Homo sapiens: one gene and its partners. The protein of the gene in region 3 interacts with the protein of the main gene of each other region in a biochemical or structural test. Each region holds a gene or a part of one and is shown on either strand. Other genes may lie near its edges.

Region 1 (5,652 bases), about 200 Mb from region 3:
GAGGTTGCAGTGAACTGTGATTGTGCCACTGCACTCCAGCCTGGGTGATAGTGAGATCCCAACTCAGAAAAAAAAAGTTTGTATCTGTCTCCCTCAGCATGTCTCTCAGTGCTGAATGAACAATAGTAATTTCTGAGAAAACATGGAAATCCAACCCTCCTACCTTTTAAGGTTCTTATAATAAATCCTCATCCTTTGATTAGCAATGTGGGAATACTTTTCTACTTTATGGAAGGATATCAGTCTCTTAGCCCAGTGCCTTATGGAAGAGAAAGGAGTCAGATATTGGATAACAGAAAGCTGTTAAATCTTTTGGAAGCCTTGGAAAGAGGCAGAGATGCAGAAAGCTTGTATCTTTAAGAGCACCACAACAGGCATTTCGTTCAGTAGGTAGCTATTTGGGAGCCACTTGAGGATGAACCACTTAAGGAGGGTTCATGATGACAGGTGAAGAAGCAGAGAGGTGTGCAGATACAACAGGGAAGATAGCAAAAGGTAAGGCCCAAAACTTGCCTAACTGAAATGCTCTGTACCTCTTCTCTCCAAATCCATAGAGCATCACTCGTAAGAGACGTTATGTGGCCTCAGTGTCCCTTCATGACCGGATCTACGTCATTGGTGGCTATGATGGCCGTTCCCGCCTTAGTTCAGTGGAATGTCTAGACTACACAGCAGATGAGGATGGGGTCTGGTATTCTGTGGCCCCTATGAATGTCCGACGAGGTCTTGCTGGAGCCACCACCCTGGGAGGTAGGCTGGATGTGCAGGGCAATTATTTCCATCTTACTGTGGCTGGACCAGGGTTTTTAACCTCTCCTGTTGTCTGGCAGGAGCATGAAATACGGAGAAAAAATTAAGGTCAAATGTTATTATTATTTGAGACAGGGTCTCTCTCTGTTGCCCAGGCTGGAGTGCAGTGGTGTGATCACGGCTCACTGCAGCCTCAACCTCCCCAAGCTCAAGCGATCCTCCCACCTCAGCTTCCTGAGTAGCTGGGACTACAGGCATGCACCACCATGCCCAGCTATATTTTTGTATTTTTAGTAGAGATGGGGTTTCGCCATGTTGCCCAGGCTGATCTCTAACTCCTGAGCTCAAGTGATTGACCCACCTCGGCCTCCCAAGGTGCTGGGATTACAGGTGTGAGCCACTGTGCCCAGCCGACAAATACTCCTTTTTGCTTTCAGAAATATCAGTGTAATAGAAGCTGTTCAATATTCATGGATGTTTCATTATTGACTACAAAGTTGGCAAATCAAGTTCCAATGTGCTGGGTGGGGAACTGGCACTAGTTGTGTTTTTGCAAACTCCTAGGTGGTCTTTGAATGCTTTTAAGGATTTTGTTTTACCCCATTCTTTTTAGATGTCTTCCTTGTCTATAAAACTTAATTGACTTATCTCATTTAAAAATACTTTGTTTTTGCTCTCAGACTTTTAAAGGACCCTTGGAAAATTTGTAGAGGAAAGAGTTCTTAGAAATCTCTCATTCTCTAATAGTCTGTAATTTGTTTATTCTGAGCAGATATGATCTATGTCTCTGGAGGCTTTGATGGAAGCAGGCGTCACACCAGTATGGAGCGCTATGATCCAAACATTGACCAGTGGAGCATGCTGGGAGATATGCAGACAGCCCGGGAAGGTGCCGGACTCGTAGTGGCCAGTGGAGTGATCTACTGTCTAGGTATTGAGTCTGGGATGCAGGAATGGGAGGGAACTCAATGGGTAATGGGCTGTGGGTAAGGATTCCTTTTTACCAAAATGACGTTCATAGACTTCCCTTCAACTAAAACCCTGGTGTGTCTTAATATATTTTCCATTAATTGGGATTATCTTTTTCTTATAAGCATAATGTCAGATTTCTCTTAGAGTTATTGGAACTCTTGTGGGAAAATTGAAACTAAAATAATTAGTTGAAGCACTCAGAAAAAAACCGACCAGGAATGGGCATGAGGATTTACCACTCTTTCTGGAATGGTCTCTGTCTTCCAGGAGGATATGACGGCTTGAATATCTTAAATTCAGTTGAGAAATACGACCCTCATACAGGACATTGGACTAATGTTACACCAATGGCCACCAAGCGTTCTGGTAAGACCAGATCTGAGGGAGGGGACAATAGGCGATGCTGTCAGACCTTTACATATATAATGGTGGTGCATGGGACAAACCGTAGATTAATGTAAAAATGAGATTCTGCTCTCCTCCTTGTCTCTGTTTTCTCTAAATACTAGGATAAAGACAGTTGATACTTACAACTAGATTATAAATTTGAAAGCAAAAGCCTTCATGTCTTTGTTCTCTCCCTACGTTTTAGAATATCTAGTACAATTTTGCCTGTGTAGTACATGCTTAATAAATATCTGTTAAATAAAGTCTCTAATGCATAAGGACAAAAGAGTAGCTACTTACCTTCACCAAGAGCTTTTTGAAGTGGAGCAGGCTGGGATATAGAAAAGGAGAGAGCACTGTGCTGTTCTAGTTTACTTACTCTGGGTAAAAATTGCTTCAGAACCATAATCACAACTCCTTTCCCTCCATCTACCTTTATTGCCACCTTTTTTTCACTTCCTCCCTTTCTCCTAATTAGAAGGGTTGGGCTCTGAGTTAATGAAAGTAAAGAAGAGAACCATTTTTATTATTTATCTTTTATCATTTCAAGTCCAAGCCAAAGGGTTTATAGATGGAATAACTTGTGCTGGACTAGATTATTCTAGGCCCGTGTGGGCCCATTCCATATCCCTCATCTACTGTAGAACTCAGCTAGTCATTAGTGACCGTAGTTTATTTCTATAATTCAGATTCTAGGCTTAGTACCATACATTTGCTAATGCATTCATTTTCCCCAGGTGCAGGAGTAGCCCTGCTGAATGACCATATTTATGTGGTGGGGGGATTTGATGGTACAGCCCACCTTTCTTCCGTTGAAGCATACAACATTCGCACTGATTCCTGGACAACTGTCACCAGTATGACCACTCCACGATGCTATGTAGGGGCCACAGTGCTTCGGGGGAGACTCTATGCAATTGCAGGGTGAGGATTTAGAAACGAATCCAGACTCAATATGTAGCCAGAGCAAGAGTCTATGTGATCTGATCCTCATTTTTGGACAGAGACAAGACTTGGGTAGGGGTAGACATCTCCAGTGGCAACTTGATTTTTTTTATTAGATTTTTTTTATTTTTTAGAGACAGAGTATTGCTCTGTCACCCAGGCTGGAGTCTGAGTAGAGTAGCTGGGACCACAGGTGCACGCCACTGTGCCAGACTAGTTTTTTATGTTGCCTAGGCTGGTCTCCAACTCCTGGGCTCAAGCAATCCTTCCACCTCAGTCTCCCAAAGTGCTAGGATTACAGGTGAGAGTCACCATGCCTGGCCTCCAGTGGCAGCCTTAATGAAGGACTTGTGTGGAAAGGAATAGAAGGCTAATTTCTTTCTTTCTTTCTTTAAATTTTATTGAGACAGGGTCTCACCATGTTGCCCAGGCTGGTCTCAAATTCCCTCCTGGGCTTAAGCAATCCTCTTACCTCAGCCTCCTGCATAGTTGGGATTACAGGCACGTGCCACTGCACGCAGCTGACTCATTTCTTTCTTTTGCTTCTTTCCCACTCAGATATGATGGTAATTCCCTGCTAAGTAGCATTGAATGTTATGACCCTATCATCGACAGCTGGGAAGTCGTGACATCCATGGGAACCCAGCGCTGTGATGCTGGTGTTTGTGTTCTCCGCGAGAAGTGACCATTGTTGGAGCACCATCCAGAGCTAGTGACCAGTCCAGTGGACAGTTAGTGGGAGAATCAAAAATCCTTTCCAGAATGTCTGTTTCTCACTATGTGCACCGGGTGATTACAGGCACCAGTGCAGTGATGATTGTACTTATTTGACACATACTCCCCGTCGTCCTGGTTCTTGTTCCTGAGAAGGGTGGGTAACAGATATTCCAGGAAAAAGAATGCACATTGAATGGATGTGAGAGACCACATTGCCTCTCCCACTGCTTTGGGGAGCACTTTCCTGTCATTTCTAACTTACCACATGCTTGGTGTACTATATGTATGTTGTGCCTCATATGTTGCAAAGAACTAAGGTGAGTATAGCCTACTAGATATGGGCAATATCCAGCCTAGATGATTGGAAAGATACCAGTTTAAGTAAACTTGGTAAAATCCAAGTCTTTTTTTTTTTTTCCAGGAACAACTACATTTTCTCATATACAGGTAGCTAGGGGCAACACAGTTCCATTCTAGAGGGAAACAAAAGGGAGAGCCCCACAAAACTTTGGGGACAAGGGAGAGAGAGACTCATCTGACACTTCTTTTGGAGGTCAGGATTTGTATATCAGAATTGAAGTTAGAATTAAGTGAATTAAACTGAATTTGATTGTGAGTGAACCTAGAACAGCACTGAAGTATTACATAACCTGGAAGACTGAGAAGGGTATATTATTTGAAGGATCTTTTTATTTCCCCGAGGTCTTTCGCACTGGAGACAGCATAAAAGAGTGAACAAATGTTGGGATGAGAGAAGATGACATCAATGTGGGAGTTCAGTATAACTGGGGATAAACTAGAAGAACCTGTGATTTTACAGTCATCTTATTACCTGCCAGGGCTCATCTAGCCATGGCAATGTTTGCCTTGAATGGGGGTGAAAGCCTTTCTTTGTTGGATCAAATACTACTACACTATTACACTTCCACACTATTTATTTGGGGATGGGCTGGGAGTGACAGTAGCCTAGTAGTTCAGCTACCTGATTACTGCCCCATTCTTTTAGAAGCACATGTCTGCCAAGGAGTGGTTTGTACTGCTGTGTTTGGTACATCTAGTCTTTTTTCTGCTATAAGTTTTCCTTACCTGTCCTTTAGTGTAGATTTTATTCATCACAGGACAGAATAATCAAGGACAACCAAAATCCTTTTGTTAGTTTCAGTACCTCAGCTATCAACATTTCTGAGCTACCATTCAATGTTCCTCTGTGTCATGGAGTGAAATTCTTGTTTTGTGGGTATTAGGAGTGTGGGAATGTGATAACCTAAACAACCTTTGCTCTGAAATTCCATTTTTCCCTCTTTCCCTGAGTTGTATTGACCTACAGAGTTAATTTCCTTTGTATTTTTTTAAGAAAATATTAAAAATCAACGGTCTCAAATGCCGAGAGTTTGTGGCTAACCAACATTGCCTTTAGTAGATATTTGGGAGGGAAAGATGTAGGGATCAGCCGTAGCTCCTGTCTCTTCAAGCTGTTCATCTTGTGTGTTTGCCAACTAGTTCCGCTATTTCTATGTTAGACACAGGTAAGAGGTAGCCACTTTACACTTTGGAGATTCTCATCAGTAAAATATTTACCTGATTTGCCATATTCATTAGCCCCTCTGACGCTTGGAGTTACTTGAAAAAGGAATACAGAAAAGATCTTGAATTCACTTAGCACGCGCTTGAATTTCAGGGTTTCAGTCACACCAGTCCTTTTTTCCATTTGCTTTGAATTGTGGCATGTGATATAAACAGCTATGCGGAAGGCCTGCAAAACTGAAACAGTCCTGATGCTTCCAGAGCAAAAGGAAGGAGGAGCCACATGAGGAAGTTATTTTCCTTAAAAGATGCCTACCAACTTTGGCAGATGGATTGTGCATGCTAATTAAACCAAAG
Region 2 (7,037 bases), on a different chromosome or scaffold from region 3:
TGAGGGCCTCTTCTCCCTCTCCCCATCGTGGGAGCACTTCCTCCACTGTTCAGTCTGCAGGCTCCTCACCCTCCCCTGAGACCTCCATGAACTCTCTACTGCCGAGGGCTGTGACCTCACGCGGTTCCTTGAACCCAAAGTTCCTTGGTCGTTTCTGTTCCAGCTCTTGTTCCTTGAGGTTCTCAGATAGGTGTGGAAGGAGATTTTGTCTGATGAAAAAGCTTCTTAATTTTTTTTTTTTTTTTTTTGAGACAGGGTCTGGCTCTGTTGTCCAGGCTGGAGTGTAGTATTATGATTTCGGCTTACCTCCATGTCCACCTCCCGGGTTCAAGCGATCCTCCAGCCCTAGCTGGAGACCACTACCTAGCTGGGACCACAGGCATGCACCGCCACACCTGGCTAATCCTTGTATGTTTTGTATAGAGGGGGTTTCGCCATATTAGCCAGGCTGGTCTTGAACTCCTGAGCTCAAAGCGATCTGCCCACCTCAGCCTCCCAAAATGCTGGGATTACAGGTGTGAGCCACTGCTCCCAGCCACGCTTCTTAATTTTTTTAAAAAATTAGACTATTACAGTTTTTCCCTGCAATGCTTGCTTAAATGATAATGGGTTTTGTTGTTGTTTTGAGACGAAGTGTCACTCTGTCATCCAGGCAGGAGTGCAGTGGTGTGATCCCGGCTCAGTGATGAAAACCTCCGCCTCCTGGTTTTAAGTGATTCTTACGCCTCAGCCTCCTGAGTAGCTGAGATTACAGACATGCATCACCATGCCCAGCTAATTTTTGTATTTTTTTAGTAGAGACGGGGTTTCACCATGTTGGCCAGACTGGTCTCGAACGCCTGACCTCAAGTGATCCTCCCGCCTTGGCATCCCAAAGTGCCGGGATTACAGGCATGAGCCACTGTGCTCGGCCTGATCTTGTTTTTTGGGAAATCGAACATCTTGGACTTTTCCTGGACTTGTAACCGAGAAGATCCACATGCCTTATAGTAGGAGTCCTCTCTGGTGGAAAGGCCTTAGACTTACCACTTAACCTAGCACTGTGACCTTGGGCAAATTGCTTAACCTTTCTGAGACTCAGTTTCCCCTTCGGTAAAATGGCAATAATAATTCCTGCCTCAGACAGTGACTGTAAAACTGTAGCCGTGGTGTCGCCTTTGAAGGTTTCACAGGTGTTTCTACCCAGGGAACCCCCCAAAGGGCTCTGGGAAGATGAGTTTTGGCTCGTGAGTTCTTCTGGGCCAAAAGCTGCAGCAGCTCCGTAACCCAGCCTAATGGAAGGAGTGATGTGTTGGCAGCGAGGACACTGGGAACTTGCGGAGAGGAAGTAGATAAGTGATACTATTGTATCTTTGTGTTTTCCAGAAAATACAAGATTTTGGAGGGCAGAAATGAATCAGCATTAAAAACAACACTAGCCATGAAAGAAGAAAAGATTGTGCTCTTAGAAGCACAGATGGAAGAGAAAGCGAGCCTAAATCGCCAGTTAGAGAGTGAGCTGCAGATGGTGAGTGTGGAGGTTGCACTGTGGGGCCCAGCTGCCCATTCTCAGCCTCACCCTTTCCAGCCCCTCACCTGTATAGCAGTGGGGTGGCCTGGATACCCATTTTCTAGGGCAGGGGTAGATGCGCCACAGAGTGACTGAGGGAGCCACCCTCAGAATCACACGCACTAGGGCCAAACAGAACCAGAATAAGAGCCACAGGCCTGCGGGGAGGCGGGCAGTGGCCTAGAGCAGCACCAAGTCCACCAGGCAAGATACGGGAACACCCCTGAGAGCCCTCCATGAAACTGCACGTTGGGCACTGAGCAACGGCCTGCAGAGTCTCACGGGTGCCCTCTGATGAGACAGATGGGTGCACAGGGACTCATGAGGACATGCACATGTCTACTTCTGGGTGCATGCATGCACACGTATTTGCCACATGTGTGAACACACTTTCCATACACATATAGATGTGTGTTCTCCACACATACACACTCTCCACATATGCACATGCTCCTTACACATGTACATGCATGCTCTCTACACACATGTATTATACATGTGCCCACCACGTGTGTGCACACTCCACACACAAACACATGCTCCTCACACACAGGTGTACACACCCGACACGTGCTCTCAATGTGCACACTCTCACAGGTGATCAGGTGTGCACACTCCCCCCTTCCACACACGCACTCTTCCAGCCTCAGTTTTGAACACATGCCATGCTTCTTGGCTGCAGGATTGAATAGGAATCTGGATAAAGCTGCTCCAGTGCCAGCAGGGGCTTTGAGACCTCATCCCTGTTCACCTCCTGTATCCTCAGCCTCACCTCTGTTTGAGGGAGTGGATAACTGAGGCTCAGGAAAGCAGGAAGCCACATGGCTAAAGCAGGGACTGAGGCAGGAACGGGTTGCAGGCCCCCACCTCCCTGTCCTCTCTGGAAGGGAAGGGAAAATGTAGGGCAGAGGGTTGGTGCCTTCCCCTCAAAAGAAAAGGAGCGCGTCTGGCTTACACAGACCAGGGCGGGCGAGTATGGGGAGTGTGGAGGGTGTGGTGCAGGTTGCCCTCAGCCACTCACTCGGGGCTCCAGGCCAGGCTGCTTCCGCCTAAAGCCTCCTTGCTTATTGTCACACCTGTAGCTAAAGAAGGAGTGTGAGACCCTCAGGCAGAACCAGGGAGAGGGGCAGCACTTGCAGAACTCTTTCAAGCACCCTGCGGGGAAGACAGCCGCCAGTCACCAGGGGAAGGAGGCCTGGGGGCCCGGCCATAAGGAAGCCACCATGGAGCTTCTCCGAGTGAAGGACCGGGCCATCGAGCTGGAGCGGAATGTGAGTGGGCTGGCCTGGGCATGGTCCATCGGGGACAGAGAGAGAGAGACTGCCTTATCAGTAGTCCCATTGATGACTTGTCATTGCTGTAAAGAACACAGGAGATTTAGCCAGATCTAGTTGGACACGTCTTGAGTTGCAGGTCCTGTGGGCCCCTCTTCATTTGAGGTCCCTTCCGTGATTCTCACATCAGGGGCACACACAGCCTTCATGGCAATTCAGCCTCTTCCTGTAGTGTTGTGTCTTTCAGTGCCCAGTACCAGGGATTGGGAAACTCCAGCCCCCACCTGCTTTTGTAAATAAAGTTTTATTAGCAGACAGTCATGCCCATTGTTTAGAGGTTGTCTGGGGCTGCTTCCCCTACAGTGACAATGATTCTTTAGGTTGAGATGGAAACCCCATGGCTGGCAAACCCAAAAGTATTTCCTATCTGGCCCTTTCTAGAAAAAGTCTGCTAATGCATGTCCGTGCCTCTGACTTTGATTCTCAACAATGACTTTATGAAGTTCAGAGTGGTGATTTTCATTATTTGATCGATGATAAAGCTCAAACAGAATTTCAGAGACTTGACCCAAAGCCCCATGCTAATAAGGGATAGTAAAAGACTACAGGTCCTGGCCCTTAGCCCAGTTGGTGGCAAACTTTAACATGGTCTTTATTAGTCTCACATAATGTGAAGTGCCTTATTCTACTTGCTGTCACCTCTGAGTAAGGCTGTAGCCTAAGGCTTTGACTCCCTGTCCTGTGAGATACTCAGGGTTGGAGTCAATGGGAGATGGAACCAGCTCACAGAAATGCACTCTTAGGGTGTTCAACAGAAAACAAAGGAAAGCATTAAAGAGACAAAGGAAGCAGCTTTAACTCCAGCATGCATTCACCTCCCACTCACATATGCAGGTGTCAGGCAGTGTCCCCATGATGTGTAGCCTTTAAAAAAAATCCTGCTGATTATCTTTTTCAAAGAGAGAAAATATACTGACCTCATCCAGCGGACCCTCGATTTGGCCCCCAAAACATCAACTTTTGAGGGTTCGTTACAACCCAAGTACCTGTGGCCAGTTAGCATTTACCCAGTTGGAGTTTGATTCGCTCATGCCTCCCGATCTTCTAGAATGCAGCTCTGCAGGCTGAGAAGCAGCTGCTAAAGGAACAGCTGCAGCACCTGGAGACCCAGAACGTGACCTTCAGCAGCCAGATCTTGACACTGCAGAAACAGAGCGCCTTCCTGCAGGAGCACAACACCACACTGCAGACCCAGACCGCCAAGCTGCAGGTGAGCGGGGCTCCCAACACCAGTGGTCACAAGCCTGGCGGGATGTTTATCTGTGGCTCCTGGGGACCAACTGGGGGCATTAGGACTCCTCAAAAGCAGCAGATCAAAGCACAAAGCAGTTTGGGATTTTGTTAATAGAGACCCGCTGTAAACAGTGATCAGTGAAGGGGGTGATAGTTTTTAAGCCATTTTCAGTGATTGAGAAAATGGCTGCATGGGCCATTTTCATTTCATTTCTCTCCTTTTACTTGCATTCTTGTCCATGTTTTCCAGTCTTTTCCTTGAAGTGTTACTAGGACTGACTTGGAAAAGAGGTTTCAGGATTAAGCTTGGTTTAACAAAGTTAACCAGGTTTCTTTACTGTAGAACCTGGCAGAACTCTTTCTTTTTAAGCTAATGTGAATTTTTAATCTCTAAGAGGGAAGTGTAGGATATTAAGTGGCTCCCAGACTGTTGAGAGCATCAAGCAGAACTAGGTTGTGTGCCACTTCAGATGCTTGTTTTCATTTATCGCCTATAGACTGTGGGGAAATAAATTATTTATTGCAGTTTTTGTTTGTTTGTTTTGAGATGGAGTCTCACTCTGTCACCCAGGCTGGAGTGCAGTGGTGCGATCTCGGCTCACTGCAAGCTCCACCTCCCAGGTTCAAGTGATTCTTGTGCCTTGGCTAATTTTTGTATTTTTAGTAGAGATGGGATTTCACGAAGTTAGCCAGGCTGGTCTCGAACTCCTGACCTCAAATGATCCACCCACCTCACCTCCCAAAGTGCTGGGATTACAGGCGTGAGCCACCACACCTGGCTTTTTATTGCAATTTCTGAGAAAAGTTTGAAAATATGTATCTTATGGGGCAAGGACAATCAACAGGAAACTGTTTGGCAAAGAAATCGGAATTTGTTCTGGTAACAAGAAAATAGTATATTGACTTACTATTTTGAATTTTTCTTACAGTCTTAATCTGGTTTTAATATCAGGGTAATTCTGGCTTCATAAAATGATTTGGGAAGTATTCCCTCCTCTTCAGTTTTCTGATGATTTTGGATGTTGTTGGATGGAGAGGTATACAAATATCAATTATGTTAAGTAGGTTGATAGTATTGTTCAGGTATTCTATATCCTTATTTACAGATATTCTGTATACTTGTTCTAGAAAATAGGTTCTGTTTTCATTGTAAGAGACAGGGTTTCACTCTGTCGCCCAGGCTGGAGTGCAGTGCTGCAATCATAGCTCACTATAACCTCCAACTCCTGGGCTCAAGCAGTCCTCCTGCCTCAGCCTCCCAAGTAGCTGGGACTATAGGCATACAACACCATGCCCAGCTAAGTTAAAAATACTTTTTTTTTGTAGAGATGGGGTCTCACTATGTTGCTCAGGCTGGTCTTGAATTCTTTGGTTCAAGTGACCCTCCTGCTTCTGCTTCCTGAAGTCCTGGGATTACAAGCCTGAGCCACCACAGTCAGCTGAAAAGAGGTTTTTAAAAAATAGTCAGAGAGGGCACAGCACACAAGGGAGTTATCCAGGGAAAGGACATCATCTGCCCCAGCAGCTCACATTTGTGGCGAGTGGCTCAGGACTGAAGTACCCTCTGAGTGCCCGTCTATGCGGTTTAGTCCCCTTCCCACAGCAGTTGCTTAAGTTCTGGAACAGCCATCCTGGGTACCCTCTGGGTCTTCTGCCCTGAGGGTCCCGGCTATTTTCGTGTCTGCTCGAGCACTTGACCTGCTCCCCAGCCCTCCTCGCTGACTGTGGGGCCTGCGCCACGCCGCGCTTCTCCCTCTCGGCAGGTGGAGAACTCCACGCTGAGTTCCCAGAGCGCAGCGCTCACCGCGCAGTACACGCTGCTGCAGAACCACCACACGGCCAAGGAGACGGAGAACGAAAGCCTGCAGAGGCAGCAGGAGCAACTTACAGCGGCCTACGAGGCCCTGCTGCAGGACCACGAGCACCTGGGCACGCTGCACGAGCGGCAATCGGCCGAGTACGAGGCCCTCATCCGCCAGCACAGCTGCCTAAAGACACTGCATCGGAATCTGGAGCTGGAGCACAAGGAGCTCGGGGAGAGGTAGGGCCTGGGGAAGGAAGGGGATCTGGGGAGGGGTAGAGTCCAGAGGAGAGGCTGGGCCCAGGGGGAAAGGTGGGGCCTGGGGTAGATGGGTGGGACCTAGGGGAGAGGCAGGGCCTGGGGAAGATGGGTGGAGCCTGGAGGAGATGGGTGGGACCTGGGGGAGAGTGATAGAGCCTGGAGGAGGGGTGGGGCCTGGGGAGAGGGGTGGAGCCTGGAGGAGAGGCAGAGCCTGGGGAGAGAGGTGGAGCCTGGAGAGAGGCGGGGTCTGGGGGAGGTGGGTAGGACCTGTGGGAAAGGCAGGGACTGGGGGAGATGGGTGGAGCCTGGACGAGAGGCGGGGGCCTCGTGAGAAGGGTGGAGCCTGGAGGAGAGGTGGAGCCTGGAGCAGAGGTGGGGTCTCAGGAGAGGGTCTCAGGAGAGGCAGGGCTTTGGGGAAGTGGGCAGGGCCCGGGGGAGAGGCAGGGTGTGTGGGGAGGGGAGGTGAAGGAGGGTGGAGGTGGGGCCCCTGGGTAGGCCTGCAGCGGGGCCTGAGGCCAGGCCTGGGGAGTCTGTCAGGCTGCGCGGAGGACTGGGACTTCCCTGGACCTCCCCTGCAGGAAATCTCTTGGCCAGCTGCTTCCCATTGTTGGGGCACCTGAGCTTTCCCAAAAGGAAGGAAATAAACGTTACCTTTAGCAATTTGGAATTTGTGCAACTGAAGACAGTAGTAAGAGGGGCTCCTGTGTGGAGAAGGGGATGCCTCTACTATTTCCAGTGGGCCTTTGGGGCCCTGATCCCTAAGGGTTCTCTTCTGTCTCTTTTCTCCCCAAAACAGAAATAAGGAGGGAATTCTCCACGGCTCCGTTTGTAGGGGTATGCCTTCTCTGGCCTCCCAGCT
Region 3 (4,678 bases):
CGGCCCATCGACCCCGCCGCCTGGCTGTCCCACACGGCGGCACTGACAGGAGCCCTGCCCCGCTACGGTACGAGTCCCTGCTCCAGCGCCGTCACGCGCACCAGCTCCTCCTCACTAACCAGCTCCGTGCCTGGTGCTCCACGTAAGTGGCAGCTCCTGAGGGCCCCAGCAGAAACCGAGGCTTGGAGGGGGCGTCTCTGCCAGCCTCCAGCATGGCCGCCTGTGGCCGTCATGGGGCTGTGACACGTGTGTGTTGCCTGTCCCCAACTCCCTGCACAGACGTGTGCACAGGCACCCGTGCCCACCTTGTGCAGCCCATCCTGCTCATGGTCTGTGTGTTGGGAACAGGGGATGTACGTAGGGCCCCTATGCGGGGAGCACCCACGGCGTCAGAGGCAGGGGCCAGGTCTCCATTCTGCTTCCTGCCATTAACACGACTAACAGCCTGCGCTCTCGGGTGGGGCATGCGGGGAGGGGAAGGGGCCTGCCCTGTTCTCATTACTTCCTGGTCTGCAGGGTGGGGTGTCAGCCCAGTTTGTGCCTAGGATCCTGATGAAAAGTGTCTGTAGAAGTGGGAGACTAAATGTCCAACCCCCCTGCTCACGCCCCAGCCTCACGGGGGTGCATCCTGCAGTGGGCCGGGGCCCTGCTGTCACGCACCGTCCAGCTTGCGCCCTGGCGCAGGCTCTGCCCAGAGGCTCCCCTGGGGGTGCAGGGCCCTGAGTCCCCCGCCTTCAGATGCTGGGGCTGAAGCGGGGCTGTCTGTGCTTTGCAGAGCTGGAAGAGGCGCCGCTGACGGTGAAGAGTGACATGAGCGCCGTCGTCCGGGTCATGCAGCTGCCAGACTCGGGACTGGAGATCCGCGACCGCATGTGGCTCAAGATCACCATCGCCAATGCCGTCATCGGTGAGTGGCCGTCCCCGCGGGCGGATAGTGCCAGGGGCAGGGCTGCTTGCCTCGAGGCTGCGGGCTGACCGCTGGTGCCGGCCAGGGGCGGACGTGGTGGACTGGCTGTACACACACGTGGAGGGCTTCAAGGAGCGGCGGGAGGCCCGGAAGTACGCCAGCAGCTTGCTGAAGCACGGCTTCCTGCGGCACACGGTCAACAAGATCACCTTCTCCGAGCAGTGCTACTACGTCTTCGGGGATCTCTGCAGCAGTGAGTGGGGGCTTCGGGCTTCAGGGCGGGGGGGAGGGGAACGCCGGAGGCCCCTCCGCGGCCCTCACCTACCCTCCCCCGCCAGATCTCGCCACCCTGAACCTCAACAGTGGCTCCAGTGGGACTTCGGATCAGGACACGCTGGCCCCGCTGCCCCACCCGGCTGCCCCCTGGCCTCTGGGTCAGGGCTACCCCTACCAGTACCCGGGACCCCCACCCTGCTTCCCGCCTGCCTACCAGGACCCGGGCTTTAGCTATGGCAGCGGCAGCACCGGGAGTCAGCAGAGTGAAGGTGAGAACGCCGCCCCTACCTGCCCTTCCCCGGCTCCGCCCCCAGCTCCGCCCCACTCCACTGCTGCTCCGCCCCCAGTTCCACCCCACCCCGCTGCTGCTCCACCCCCAGCTCCACCCCACCCCGCTGCTGCTCCGCCCTGCTTCTCTGCTGACCCCAATCCCATGCTCCTGCTGTGTACTTGGGCCCTGGGTGGGCTCCTTCTGGAAAAGGCAAGTGCCAGGGGGATCCAGGAGCCAGTGTGAATGGGGAGGACAGGGAAGCGTCTCACACAGGGGCAGCCTGGACCCCACCTCATCTGGGTGGGATTGGGATGAGGGGCCTCCAGGAGCCTGGCGGCCTGGGCGGCTGTGCCTGGTAGGGGTGGCGGCTGGTGGTTCTCCTATGGTAGAGGCAGGAGGCCCTGAGACCATGTGGCCATGGGCCATGTGACAAGGACAGGGCAGGGGTGGCCAAGGAGTCTGACAGGGTCACTTTCTAGGCCCCAGGACACAGGAGGGTGGCAGCTGCAGCCCGGGTAGGGAGCCTGACGTGGATGGTGCCGTGCATCCTAGCCTTGTGCCCCTGGCTGGGGTGTGTTTAGGGGCCGGGGATCCAGAGTGTTCCTGAGGTGTTGCCTGGTGGAGCAGAGGCCCCAGTGGGTGGGGTTGGTGAGGCCAGCAGGGGCGTCTGCAGGCCAGGGAGGGGTGCAGGTGGCTTCGTGGAGGGCCCAGGAAGGAGGGCGAGAGAGGAGAGGCGGCCAGAGGGTGTGGGACCGCAGAGAAGCCACGCTGGGTGTCTACTGACCCTCGACCGGCGCTTGCGCCCACTTCAGCCCCGCCCAGCCCGCGGTCAGTCCCCACTGGTGGCGGGTGGGTGCTGGGCAGGTGCCAGGCAGCCGGGCGTGTAACTCGTGCTATCCCTTGTCTTGTGCTAAACAAGCCTTAGACTGAAGGACTAGCGGAGCGGACCTTGGGCCGGTAAGCCAGGGTCCCGCCCGGGGTCCCTCAGCATGTCCCCAGCCAGCCACGCCCTCCAGCTCCCACTGCGTCTTGGGAGCCCAGGACAGGGCTGAGCTGAGTCATCCGTCGGCCAGGGTCCTGGGCCGGGGGGACAGTGGGGCCTTGGGTGGGGAATCCAGGATGGCCACGGGGGCACCGGGCATGAGGGGCCCTCGCTGGCACCTCAGTCTTTCAGCCGCAAGACCAGGCCCTCAGCTCAAGCATCGGGGTGAGGTGTGGGGGCGCCCAGCTTGCCCCAGGACCCTGCCTGCCTCCCACTGCCCCCACCAGCCCATGCCTGCCGCAGCTGCCCCTGCGACCCTGGGGGTGCCGGCCCTGTCCTCGCGCCTGCATGGCTGCCCCACCCACCCGTCCTGCACGGGCCACCGTTCCTGCCCGGTCACCTGGCGGGGGCGGTTGTTCTGGACGTGGCCGGGCCTGGTGCTGACAGGCTCCTTCCCCATCCTGTTCTCACTCCCAGGGAGCAAAAGCAGTGGGTCCACCCGGAGCAGCCGCCGGGCCCCGGGCCGTGAGAAGGAGCGTCGGGCGGCGGGAGCTGGGGGCAGTGGCAGTGAATCGGATCACACGGCACCGAGTGGGGTGGGGAGCAGCTGGCGAGAGCGTCCGGCCGGCCAGCTCAGCCGTGGCAGCAGCCCACGCAGTCAGGCCTCGGCTACCGCCCCGGGGCTCCCCCCGCCCCACCCCACGACCAAGGCCTATACAGTGGTGGGGGGGCCACCCGGGGGACCCCCTGTCCGGGAGCTGGCTGCCGTCCCCCCGGAATTGACAGGCAGCCGCCAGTCCTTCCAGAAGGCTATGGGGAACCCCTGCGAGTTCTTCGTGGACATCATGTGACTCGTGGCGCATGCCCCAGCCCTGCCTGAGGTGGGGAGCTGGCGGTCCTGCCGCATGCAGAGCTCGCGTGGGCTTGCCTTCGTGGGGGCCAGGACGGGAGGCAGGGTGGGGGGCAGGCTGGACCACCACCATCTGCCCTGGCAGCCTGGCTGCTCCAGCTCCTGACAGCACCTGTGTCTGAGCAGCCGTGTTGGGGGCGCTCCCTCTCTGCCCCTCAGCGAGAGCCTCGGACCTCCCAACCCCTTGTGTCTGGTGGGGATCCCTCCTGGGATGAGGAAGACCCCCTCGGGCTCTCGGCTGACCCCCACCTCCTGCACAGCTGTGCCCAGGCCCCCAGGGTGGTCCATGCGGGGCAACCCCCTGCGGTGCACAGGCCCCCTGTCTGGAGTAGGGATCTAATTTATTTATTTATTGCCTGGCCGGTGACTCGGGGGAGGAGGCGACCCTGTCATCTGTCCCACCTGCTGCTGCCCCTTGGAGCAGCCTGCACCTTCTCTCCTCCCATCCGGCAACAGTCTGAAAGTACGTGGAGGACGGGACCGGAAGACGAGAGAGGGCTGGACATCCTGCCCACCGTGTCCCAGCCAGGGCAGGGAGGGACCATGGCCCGCAGGGTCAAGGGGCCCCGATGTGCACAGCTGCCACAGGGAGGGAGGTCTTGGGGAGATGGGCAGTCAGGTGGCCCGTCCTTGGTGAGTGCACACACTGCGCGCACACATCGCGGCCTTCCTGGCTTCTCTGGCCCCCACGTGTCTGTGCTGTAGATACTGTATCAAAGTCCCAGCGTTTAGATGGTTAACATAGAGCTGCTTCTGTGTAAATGCTGCTTATTTTAAACACTAAAAAGCGTTTAATTTTATGGGACAGATGTGTGGCCTGTGCCCCTTCTCTCCGGCTGGGCTGCCTTGGAATGAGGCACAGGGAGCTGGTCCAGCCTCCCCTAGGCCCTGCTGGGAGCTGACCCTGGGACTCTGACCGGAGACCCTGTGTGGGCCTGGCGGCGTGCTGGCGTCAGATCCTGGTGGGCAGTTTTCTGTCCATGGTGCTGGCTCCGGGGTCCTGGTGGTCGGTGCTGGCCGTGGTGCTGGACCCCGCCCCCACCCCACCTGGGCTCTGTCCCTGGTACTGGTGACAGTCATGATGCTGTCTACCCACTGGGCAAAGGGCAGAGTAGGAAGCTGGGTGCCACCCCTACCTCGGCGGGCTCTGCCCTGGGCATATGCCTGTGTGCCCCCACCTGGCCTCCCACTGCTGTGGTGCCTGGCAGGGTGCAGGATGGGGGCCCTGGTGGGACATGGTCAGGTCGGCAGGGCCTGATTTGGGCTTCCAGCCATCTGGCCGGGGCCTCCCTGCGTCCTTTTCCTGAGCTCACGGTGTGGGTTGCGGGTACC

Evidence for each region.
Region 1: the proteins of DVL1 (region 3) and KLHL12 are reported together in a solved structure, tested with the Homo sapiens proteins (one study listed by BioGRID).
Region 2: the proteins of DVL1 (region 3) and CCDC88C form a complex in vitro, tested with the Homo sapiens proteins (one study listed by BioGRID).

The regions. Positions count from the first base shown.
Region 1 is NC_000001.11:202,890,620-202,896,271, reverse strand, and holds the end of KLHL12 (kelch-like protein 12), read left to right. Parts: intron 1-554; coding exon 555-750; intron 751-1,522; coding exon 1,523-1,681; intron 1,682-1,989; coding exon 1,990-2,088; intron 2,089-2,846; coding exon 2,847-3,033; intron 3,034-3,612; coding exon 3,613-3,739; 3' UTR 3,740-5,152; downstream 5,153-5,652. UniProt on the Homo sapiens protein: Substrate-specific adapter of a BCR (BTB-CUL3-RBX1) E3 ubiquitin ligase complex that acts as a negative regulator of Wnt signaling pathway and ER-Golgi transport.
Region 2 is NC_000014.9:91,302,821-91,309,857, reverse strand, and holds part of CCDC88C (protein Daple), read left to right. Parts: intron 1-1,365; coding exon 1,366-1,507; intron 1,508-2,631; coding exon 2,632-2,820; intron 2,821-3,931; coding exon 3,932-4,093; intron 4,094-5,879; coding exon 5,880-6,157; intron 6,158-7,037. UniProt on the Homo sapiens protein: Required for activation of guanine nucleotide-binding proteins (G-proteins) during non-canonical Wnt signaling. Binds to ligand-activated Wnt receptor FZD7, displacing DVL1 from the FZD7 receptor and leading to inhibition of canonical Wnt signaling.
Region 3 is NC_000001.11:1,334,751-1,339,428, reverse strand, and holds the end of DVL1 (segment polarity protein dishevelled homolog DVL-1), read left to right. Parts: coding exon 1-142; intron 143-775; coding exon 776-907; intron 908-992; coding exon 993-1,160; intron 1,161-1,245; coding exon 1,246-1,452; intron 1,453-2,373; coding exon of another isoform or gene 2,374-2,384; exon of another isoform or gene 2,385-2,411; intron 2,412-2,913; coding exon 2,914-3,287; 3' UTR 3,288-4,151; downstream 4,152-4,678. UniProt on the Homo sapiens protein: Participates in Wnt signaling by binding to the cytoplasmic C-terminus of frizzled family members and transducing the Wnt signal to down-stream effectors. Plays a role both in canonical and non-canonical Wnt signaling.